Linked DNA regions of Homo sapiens: region 2 is linked to region 1. Evidence: fine-mapped expression QTL. A gene starts in region 1. The other region holds a variant in brackets. All regions are shown on one strand. Distances are between the middles of the regions.

Region 1 (5,364 bases):
GGCGGCCACCAGCTCCTCAGAGATCATCCGCACCTGGGTGGGGCCAGGCCATCAGGAAGCTGGGCAGAGTCCCAGGTGCCCCCAGCCCTGCCGATGCATAGTCAGGGGGAGCTTATGCTTCCAGAGTTGGGGAAGGGCCTCTCCAGCCAACAGGGCTGCCCACCCTGACTCACCCCACTCCCACAGCCCCTCAGCCCTTCATGGCCAGGGACCTCCAGGCAGCTAGAGATACGAGAGCCAGTGACTCCCTGCACATTGGGACAGGGACATACCCGCCACTGGGTGAACTCGCTGAGGGACTCGGGCCCGTAGCGGACATCCCTGACAGCCGACTTCACAAAGTCCGCCTGGGCCTTCTCAGCCTCCTCTTCAGGACCCAGTGTGGCCATGAACTTCTCCCAGTGAGCTGTGACCTGGTGCAAGAGGGACCAGATCCAGGCCCGGCCCACCCCAGCTCCTCCGGACCCAGCCCTCCATCTCAGGGAATCTCAATCCCGCCACCTGCTGGAAGCCTCCTGGAATCACAGCCTCATAAAACACACACACACACACACACACACACACACACACACACACACACCCCACACACACCCCAGCAACAACCCAGGTGCCTACACACACACACACACACACCCCAGCAACAACCCAGGTGCCTACACACACACACACACACACACACACCAGCAACAACCCAGGTGCCTATAGTCCCAGCCACTGGGAGGCTGAGGAAGAAGCATCGCTTGAGGCCAGGAGTTGGAGCCTGGGGAACAGAGCAAGATCCCATCTCTACAAAAAATTTTAAAATGATCCAGACGTGGTGGCATGCGCCTAAAGCCCCAGCTATTCAGAAGGCTAAGGCGGGAAGATCGCTTGAGCCCAGGAGTTGGAGGCTGCAGTGAGATACGATCACACCACTGCACTTCAACATGGGCAGCAGAGCGAGACCCTGTCTCTAAAAAAAAAAAAAAAAAAAAAAAAAAAAAAAAAAAAAGGTAAAAAAGAAACACCCCAGAAAAAGCTACTTAGAAGAGTCAGGCCGGGTGTGGTGACTCATACCTGTAATCCCGACACTTTGGGAGGCCAAGGCGGGCAGATCACCTAAGGCCAGGAGTTTGAGGCCAGCCTGGCCAACATGGTGAAACCCTGTCTCTACTAAAAATACAAAAAAAATTAGCTGGGCATGGTGGCAGGTGCTTGTAATCCTAGTTACTCGGGAGGCTGAGGCAGGAAAATCACTTGAACCTGGGAGGCAGAGGTTGCAATGAGCCAAGATCGCATCACTGCACTCCAGCCTGGGCGACGGAGTGAGACTCCATCTCAAAAAATAAATAAATAAATAAAGTAGCACATCAGGCTAGGGGCTGTTGGGGCAAAGAGCCTCTATCAGTCACCCTCCTCAACATCCTCCTGATGTCCAATTCTATCATTCTCCCAATGCCCCCACAGCTCCTAAGCACACAATAATCCTCTCATCCCCTTACCCTGCTGGTCAGCTCCCGATTCAGGTTCTCCACCTGAGAGTAAGTTGAGGACGCATCCTTGCCATTGACCTTACGGAGCGTGGGCAGGAGAAAGGAGACTTTCAGGTTGTCATTGACCTGGGGAAGAGAGGGTGAAGAGCAGTGGCTCAGGAGATGCTGAGCCTGAGCCCAACAGAGTCCTGGCCCCAGGTATGAAGCTGGTGGGAGGCTCCCACTTACCGTCAGGAAGGGGTTGCCCTCCAGGCTGAGTTCCTCGAGCTTGGGGAACTGGCACAAGGCAGTAACATCCCCCAGCTGGTTGTTGGCGCAGCGGAGGACACGCAGGTGGGACAGGCCCAGGTTGTCCGGCAGCGTCTCCAGGTGGTTGTTAGACAGGTCAAGCTCCTGCAGCTGCGTCAGGCGGCACAGGAGTTTGGGGTCCAGGTGCTCGGAAAGCAGCTCCAATCCTGACAGGCTGGAGTTGGGGGCAGAAGGCTTAGGGGGCGGGCAGGCTTTGCACCCTACACCAATCTGCCCCGGGTACCTCAGAAGGCTTTTTCACCTGACATTTCTCGTACAAGTGTAGCCGCCCCGCCCATCCCCCCGTTACTTTATTTTTAGAGACGGGGTGTCACTCAGTCGCCTAGGCGCGATCATAGCTCACAGCTGCCTCCAACTCCTGGGCTGAGGGATCCTCCCGCCTCAGCCTCTCGAGTAGCTGGGACTAGAAGCGCGCGCCACTACTCCCGACTCCACACCACTTAACAAAAAAAAAAAAAAAAAAAAAAAAAAAAAAAAAAAAGCTGCAACTACTTTAGGACTCGGGGGCATCCTAGCCCCCTCTAGGATGCTCTTCCTGATCCTTCGGGGGCTCGTCTGTGCTTCCCAGGCCCTCTAACGATAGCGGCAGGCTGTGCCCCTAACTGTCCGGGCTCCCTTCAGGGGATGAGGCCCCTCGGGGCTCCCGGCGAGCGGGTGGGGCCACGATCTCCCAACAAGAAGACATTTGGACCACTCTGCCGAACCCAGAGGGCGATAACGGGGACAAGCGGGCCGTTGGGGAGGGTCCCCGCTCTTCTCCCCGACCGCCCGGCCCCGAGGACACAGCCTCACCCGCTGCCCGGCTCTTACTCCAGACTCCGGATCTTCCCCAGCCGGTCGCTCTTGGGGCGCCCGCGCTGCATTAGCAGCCGCGCCGAGAGGGGGCCCATGGCGAGGAGGCGCAGCCCGCGCTGACCCAGTCGGCCACCCCGGCGTGTGGCGTCGCCCTGCGTCTCCTGGAGCCCGGCACTGGCGTCCGCGGTAACTGAGCCCAGGAGGCGGCGCCGCGCGAGCCCGTGGGCGTTAACGACCGGAAGGAAGCGGAACCCAGGCCTCGTGCCCCCGCCCGGCGCGGACTACAACTCCCAGCGGCCCCCACGGCCGCGCCTGCGCACTGGCCACGCGGACGGCGCGATGGCGGCGGCTGCCGCCGAGACCCCCGAAGTCCTTCGGGAATGCGGTTGCAAGGGCATCCGGACCTGTCTGATCTGCGAGCGGCAGCGCGGCAGTGACCCGCCCTGGGAGCTGCCCCCAGCGGTAAGGGGTGGGAGAGGGGCCGCGCCCACAAACGTCGCTCTGCATCTGGGGAAACTGAGGTCCAGCTTGGCCATGATAGGGGCCGGGATCGAAGCCTGTGAGGGACCCTTACGGTAGGGGTGATGCAGGGTGAGGAGATGAGGGCTTTAAGGAGCGGGCTTGGGAGTGGGGAAGGAGCTGGAACGTGGGTGGGTTCGATTACAGGTCACCTCGGGGACTCTGGGGGGATCTGCCTGTAAACCTCGACGTAGCCTCTCGGGTCTGGCGCTGGGAGCTTCACGGGCCTGCAGGGAGATGACACGGAAAGGGTCGATCGAGGGTGCTGAATACCAGTCCAACGGTGCCTGAAGGCCGTGGACTGCAATGGGCAAGGAGACAGTGAATTCCAGTTAACTAACGAAAAGGAACTCAAGGATCGCTGCAACCCAGGAGCTGGAGGCTGCAGTGAGCTATGATCGAGCCACCTCACTTCAGCCTGGGCGACAGAGCGAGACTCTGTCTCACAAAAAGAAAATAAATAAAAAAAGAAAAAGAACTCAGCGCCTTTGGGCTGGCATGGAAGGACTGTGGTTGGTTGCAAGGGCATTCCAACCCAGAAAACTGCGTGGGGTAGGAAGGTGGATTGGTGATGCCTCAGGTGAGAGAGATGAGGCTGGAGAGGTTGTGGGGGGGGGGAGGTCTGATCACAGATGCTCCCCGGTGCATCAGCTGAGCAGGCTGGACTTGTCCCAAAGGCCCTGGAGAGCTCTTGAAGGGTTTTAAAGGAGTGATGAAGTCAAATGTGAATTTTAGAAAGATCCTGGGAAGGGAACGGGCAGATATGAAGGTGTGGAGGCTGGTAAGCCAGTGAAGACTGCCCCAACGTCCATGGTAAAAGTGCCCAAGGTCCTATGGAAACAGCATGGCATGCCTCATGAATTAAACATAGAATTACCCATGATCCGCAATCCTGCTTCTGGGTATATATCCAAAGGAACTAAAAGCAGGGTCTGGAAGAGATATTTGCACACCCATGTTCATATTCACGACATTATTCATGACAGCCCAAAGATGGAAGCAAACCAAGCATCTATCAAGATACCTGGGCCGGGTTCAGTGGCTCACGCCTGTAATCCCAGCACTTTGGGAGGCTGAGGTGGGCAGATCACCTGAGGTCAGGAGTTTGAGACCTGCCTGGCTAACATGGCGAAACCCTGCCTCTACTAAAATTACAAAAACTTGCCGGGCTTGGTGAGGCACATCTGTAATCCCAGCTACTCGGGAGGCTGAGGCAGGAGAATCGCTTGAACCCAGGAGGCAGAGGTTGCAGTGAGCCAAGATCGCACCACTGCACTCCAGCTCAGGTGACAGAGCAAGACTCCTTCTCAAAAAAAAAAAAAAAAAAAAAAAAAGAGATGACTTGATCCACAAAATGTGGTGCATACACATAGTAGAATACTATTCAGCCTTAAAAAGGAAGGACAGGCCGGGCACAGTGGCTCACACCTGTAATTCCAGCACTTTGGGAGACCGAGGCAGGCAGATTGCCAGAGCCCAGGAGTTTGAGACCAGCATGGGCAACATGGTGAAATCCCACCTCTACAAAAAAATTAACCATACATGGTGACACGTACCTGTAGTCCCAGCTACCCAGGAGGCTGAGGTGGGAGGGTTGCTTGAGCCTGGGAGGTCAAGGCTGCAGTGAGCTGTGATCACGCCACTGCACTCCAGCTTGGGCAACATAGTGAGACCCTGTCTCAAAAAAAAAAAAAAAAAAAAGGACATTTTGACATATGTTACAGCATGGACGAACCTTGGGGACACGATGCTAAGTTAAGGAAGCAGTCACAGAAGACAAATACTGCATGATTCCTGTTGTGTGAGCTACGTAGGGTAGTCACAGGGACAGAAAGTAGAAGGGTTGTTGCCAAGGGCTCAGGAAGGGGAGATGGGGACCTGTTGTTTAATAGGGAAAGAGTTTCAGTTTTGCAAGATGAAAAAGTTCTGAATGGTGGTGACGGCTGTACAACAATATGAATGAACTTAAGAGTTTTAATTTGTGGAAGGGGCCAGGTGCGGTGGCTCATGCCTATAATCCCAGCCCTTTGGGAGGCTGAGGCAGGAGGCTCGCCTGAGTCTAGGAGTTTGAGACCAGCTTGGACAACATAGCAAGACCCTGTCTCTACAAAAAATTTAAAAATTAGCTAGGTGTGGTGGTGTGTGCTTGTAGTCCCAGTTACTTGGGAGGCTGAGGTGGGAGGATTGCCTGAGCCCAGGAGGTCAAGGCTGCAGTGAGCTGTGAGCGCCACTACACTCCAGCCTGAGTGACAGAGCGAGACCCTGCCTC
Region 2 (5,364 bases), 27 kb after region 1:
AGGAAGGCGGCCGCTGGGAGCCAGGCCAAAAGCTCTCCTTTGTCACCCTGGAGGCCAGATTCCAGGAACGTCTGCATCGCTAACTGGGCTAAACTGATCCAACCCCAATCAATCTCTGAGGCCCTGCTCAGAGATCCCTGAGAGTTCCAAACTTTTGGGTGGTGCCTGAGACGGGGCAGACATGGGCGCCTTTTCTCAGGAAACCCTGTACCATGCAGCGATTTGATTTGATTTTATCTTTTTAATTAATTAATCTATTTATTTCGAGACAAAGTCTCACTCTTGACCAGCTGGAGTATAGTGGCGTGACCTTGGCTCACTGCAACCTCCGGCCTCCCAGGTTCAAGCGATTCTTGTGTCTCAGCCTCCCAAGTAGCTGGGATTACAGGCGCCTGCTACCATACCCAGCTAATTTTTTTGTACTTTTAGTAGAGACGGTGTTTCACCATGTTGGCCAGGCTGGTCTCGAACTCCTGATCTCAAGTGATCCACTCACCTCGGCCTCCCAAAGTGTTAGGATTACAGGTGTGAGCCAACACGCCTGGCCAAAATAAATAAATAAATTTTATTTTTTCTTTTTAGAGATGGGGTCTCACTCTGACGTCCAGGCTGGAGTGCAGTCGTGTGGACATAACTCATTGAGGCCTCCACCTCCTGGACTCAAGTGATCCTCCTGCCTCAGCCTCCCAAGTAGCTGGGGCTATAGGTGCACGCCACCACGTCCGGCTAATTATTTATTTTATTTTTGTAAAGACAGGGGTCTCCCTGTGTTGCCCAGGCTGGTCTCAAACTCCTGGCCTCAAGCTATCCTCCCACCTTGGCCTCCCAAAGTGCTGGGATTACAGGTGTGAGTCACAGAACCTGAGCTACTATAATTACCCCGCACCAACCTCCCTCCTTGCTAAGCAAATACTTGATGTGAACAGGACAAAGTGGGCTTTCTGAAGATTCTAGAGCTGGGAGCCCCTGGCAACTCCCAGCGCCCCCACTCGCACTGATAGAGTCGTCCTCTTAGAGCAGCTGGGACGTGGGTGGATGCTTCCTACTGGTCCATCCTGGCTGCCAGAGACTGGAGGGAAGGCTCTGGTCCCTGAGGCATCCCGGGACCTCAGTTAGCAAAGCCCATCTGACCAGTGTGCTCCTCACTTGGCGCCCACACTCACCATGGCAAAGCCGGAGAGGAGGGCGGAGGTCCTGCTGGAGGCCTTCAGCTTGGCCCTGCTCAGGTAGAGCTTCCGCCACGACAGGGCCTGTACCGAGTGGTGGTTAGAGGTGACCAGTTCCAGGTAGCTGCGGCGGACCCAGTCCCGGTAATCCATGCCCTTATGGCCGGGCTCAGGGCAGGCAGGAGCAGAGGGGTCGATAGGCACGTTAAGCTCAGCACTCATGGTGGGAGCCAGGCTAAGGGTGGGAGAGAGACATGCTCAGACATCCTAGGTTACTGCGGCCTGGAAGAGCTAGACTCCAAGCCCATTCAACCTACAGAGGCTGCCATATACAGCCCACGCCAGAGCCCAGGGGTTTAGAAAGTGCCCAGGACCTAAAGTTATGTTTCTTTGTTTGTTTGTTTTTGAGACAGTGTCTCACTCTGTCGTCCAGGCTGGAGTGCAGTGGGGCAATCTCACCTCATTGGAAACTCCAGCTCCTAGGTTCAAGCAATTCTCCTGCTTCAGTCTCCTGAGTAGCTGGGATTATGTGTCCGCCACCACGCCTGGCTAATTTTTGTATTTTTAGTAGAGACGGGGTTTCATCATGTTGGCCAGGCTGGTCTCGAACTCCTGACCTCAAGTGATCTGCCTGCCTCAGCCTCCCAAACTGCTGGGATTATAGGTATGCGCCACTGCGCCCAGCCTTCCAGGACCTAAAGTTATGAAACCTGGATTTGACTCTACTGTGTGATTCTGAGCATGACAGCTGACCTTTCTGACCTGGCTCTTTCATCGTGAGAATGGGGATATTTCCACCTGTAGGACTTTTTATTTATTTTTATTTTATTTGATTTGATATATTTTTTTGAGACAGTCTCGCCGAGTTGCCCAGGCTGGAGTGCAGTGGTGCAATCTCTGACTCCCGGCTTCAAGCGATTCTCCTGCCTCAGCCTCCCAAGTACCTGGGACTACAGACGCCCGCCACCATAGCTGGCTAATTTTTGTATTCCTAGTAGAGATGGAGTTTCACCATGTTGGCCAGGCTGGTCTCAAACTCCTGACCTCAGGTGATCCACCTGCCTCAGCCTCCCAAAGTGCTGGGATTACAGGTGTGACCCACCGCGTCCAGCCTACTTTTTTTAAAAATAGAGACAGAGTCTCATTCTGTTGCCCAGGCTGGAGTGCAGTGGTACGATCACAGCTCACTGCAGCCTCGAACTCTTAGGTTCAAGGGAAGCTTCTGCCTCAGCCTTCTGAGGAGCTAGGACCATAAGCACAGGACCATGCCTGCTAATGTTTTAATTTTTCCTAGAGACGGGAATCTCACTATATTGCCCAG[G/C]CTGGTCTTGAACTCCTAGCCTCAAGTGATCCTCCCTCTTACACCTCCCAAAGTGCTGGGATTACACGTGTGGGCCACTGCACCCGGCCTCACCTCTAGGGCTTTTGAATAAGATAATGCATCTGAAGACGAAAGACTTCTTCCAACATCCAGGTGCCAGCCATGGAATAAACATTTCCAAGTAGCTGCTAGTTTCACAGATCCAACTTACATTTTATTATTTTCTAAATTTATTTATTTTTTGAGACAGAGTCTCGCTCTGTCACCCAGGCTAGAGTGAAGTGGCGCAATTTCGGCTCACTGCAACCTCCGCCTCCTGGGTTGAAGCCGTTCTCCTGCCTCAGCCTCCCGAGTAGCTGGGATTACAGGCATGTGCCACCATGCCTGGCTAATTTTTATATTTTTAGTAGAGACAGGGTTTCGCCATGTTGGCCAGCCTGGTCTTGAACTCCAGAGCTCAGGTGATCTGCCCGTCTCAGCCTCCCAAAGTGATGGGATTACAGGTGTGAGCCACCGCACCTGGCCTTCAACTTAAATTTTGATCAGTACAGTTCACCCTAAGAAAAATATTGGACTTACATAACTAAAGCCACATCCAAGCTACAAGGCAAACTTTTAGCAAGATGAAAAATGAAATCCACCAACTCACATGACCACATTTTAAGGAGAAACAGAAGGCGGAGATGCCTGGACTCACACCTGGTAAACATCTGGTTTGACTAACACGGATTAAACATCAGAAGGACAGATCTGTCAAGATTTGTGAATTTAAACCCAAATCTCCACTAAGTAGGGGATTGGCGGTCGCGTGTGTCCCAAGGAGCTGGGCTGCTCGGCCACACGCCAGGATCCAGTTCTAATTAATCTGCAGGGCGTGCTTCAAGGGCACAGGCATCTTGTGGTTTACTTGACATCAAAAAGAGTGACTTTTCCAGCCTGGCCAACATGGTGAAACCCTGTCTCCACTAAAAATACAAAAATTAGCCAGGTGTGGTGGCGGGCTCCTGTAATCCCGGCTACTCGGGAGGCTGAGGCAAGAGAATCGCTTGAACCCAGAAGGCGGAGGTTGCAGTGAGCCAAGATTGCGCCACTGCACTCCAGCCTGGGTGACAGAGCAGGATTCCGTCTCAAAAAAAGAAAAGAAAAGAAAAAAAAGAAACGAAAAGAGTAACTTCTATGTCCAGGCCCACATAGGCCCCACGGAAAGTCTATGTCAGGCTGTTACACACAGATCCGTGTTTCTAGGTCCCAGGGAGCGTGGCTGGGGTGGACGGGTGGAGTGGGGAGTGCTTAACAGGGTCAGCAGCTGAGGAAATGCCCCAAACTTAGTCCATCCATGCCAGAGTCGAGCCCCCCATAATTGAAAATGCCCCAATTTGGAAATTACGCAGGAAGGTGCTGGAGGTGGAAAACAGTGTCGCCTTTCCCTTTGTTCTCAACAAGGCTACAAAGCCACAGCCTTCCCTGGCCAACAAGACCTCTGGGAACAGTTCTGTGCTATTTCTGCCAGGGGATGCCAATTACCAGGTCATTTATACGAATGCCAACTCAGGCTCTCCATCCCATCTCCTTGCGCACATCCGCAGCCAGCAGCACCGCATCCAAGCACTTCCATCCCTGGGACGTTCCTTCCCTTGGGGAGAATTCAGAGAAACGCTGCAATCCGTAGGTTAGCTCCACATAATAGAAAATGCTGTAATTTGGAAACTGCATTTTTCCTCTCCCCCCACCCCCATAGTTAACAGAATTGAGCATGCAGGTCTGATGACCGCAGTATACAGAGACTGGAGGGGTGAGACGCTAACCTTTGCTCCCTCCGTCCTCCCTCCTCCATCACACAGGTGCTTAGCGCACTTGGTACTTAAAGATCCAAGATGAAAGAGGCCAGAATTCATGGCCTCCCAGTAGGGGAGCAAGGTAAGGGGATGTGGGTCAGGAGCAGTAGCTCACACCTGTCATCTTTGGGAGGCTGAGGTGGGCGGATCACTAGAGGTCAGGAGTTCGAGACTAGCCTGGACAACATGGTGGAAACCTGTCTCTTCTAAAAATACAAAAAGTAACTGGGCATGGTGGTGGGCGCCTGTAATCCCAGCTACTCAGGAGGCTGAGGCAGGAGAATTGCCTGATCCCAGGAGGCGGAGGTTGCAGTGAGCTGAGATCCTACCGCGGCACTCCAGCCTGGGTGACACAGTGAGACTCTGTCTTAAAAAAAAAAAAATAGCTGGGTGTGGTGGCAGAGGTTGCAGTGAGCCAAGAGCACACCACTGCACTCCAGCCTGGGCAACAGAGCGAGACTCCATCTCAAAAAAAAAAAAAAAAAAGAGGGGGGGGCAATCCTCATCCACTGAGCTAAAGGCTTCAATGGAGGGCAGGGAGCAGAGGACTGGCTGCCTCACACCAAGGCCAGGAAAAGGTGCTTGCAGGTAACACCGGGGAGGGGACAGAGCGGCCCTTTGCATGCCAAAGTGCCTCATGCCTGTAATCCCAGTGTTTTGTGAGGCCAAGGTGGGAGGATCACCTGCGGCCAGGAGCTGGAGACCAGCCTAGGCAACAGAGTAAGACGCTGTCTCTAAAAATAATTTTTTTTGACATGGGGTCCTGCTGTGTTACCAAGGCTGGAGTGCAGTGGCACAATCTCAGCTCCCTGCAAATTCTACCTCCCAGGCTCAAGCGATCCTCCCGCCTCAACCACCCGAGTAGCTGGGACTACATGTGTGTGCCACCATACCTGGCTAATTTTTGGTATTTTTGGTAGAGACAGGGTTTTGCTATGTTGGCCAGGCTGGTCTAGAACTCCTGAGCTCAAGTGATCCGCCCACCTTGGCCTCCCAAAGTGCTGAGATTATAGGCATGAACCACTGCGCCTGGCCTCTAAAA

What was found. PIP is the estimated chance that this variant, and not a neighbour inherited with it, causes the effect.
Region 2: its variant is fine-mapped to the expression of LRWD1 in whole blood (INTERVAL, PIP above 0.99).

What each region holds. Positions count from the first base shown.
Region 1 is chr7:102,462,388-102,467,751 of GRCh38, reverse strand. LRWD1 (leucine rich repeats and WD repeat domain containing 1) reads right to left here and starts at 2,768. Exons shown (of 15, transcript NM_152892.3): 1 at 2,592-2,768; 2 at 1,701-1,935; 3 at 1,482-1,598; 4 at 273-413; 5 at 1-33. The coding sequence starts at 2,671. It overlaps ALKBH4 (alkB homolog 4, lysine demethylase), which reads left to right and starts at 2,889. Exons shown (of 3, transcript NM_017621.4): 1 at 2,889-3,038. The coding sequence starts at 2,916. It overlaps MIR5090 (microRNA 5090), which reads right to left and starts at 2,010; the gene lies at 1,926-2,010. RefSeq lists enhancers at 892-951, 1,315-1,840, 2,118-2,217, 1,841-2,367, 2,497-3,146 and a silencer at 2,558-2,987.
Region 2 is chr7:102,434,981-102,440,344 of GRCh38, reverse strand. It overlaps ORAI2 (ORAI calcium release-activated calcium modulator 2), which reads right to left. Exons shown (of 4, transcript NM_001126340.3): 2 at 4,012-4,120; 3 at 1,164-1,401. The coding sequence starts at 1,388. Among named protein-coding and RNA genes, the nearest start is that of ORAI2, 4.1 kb to the right of the region's middle. The variant G/C (reference allele first, on the strand shown) is at 2,488.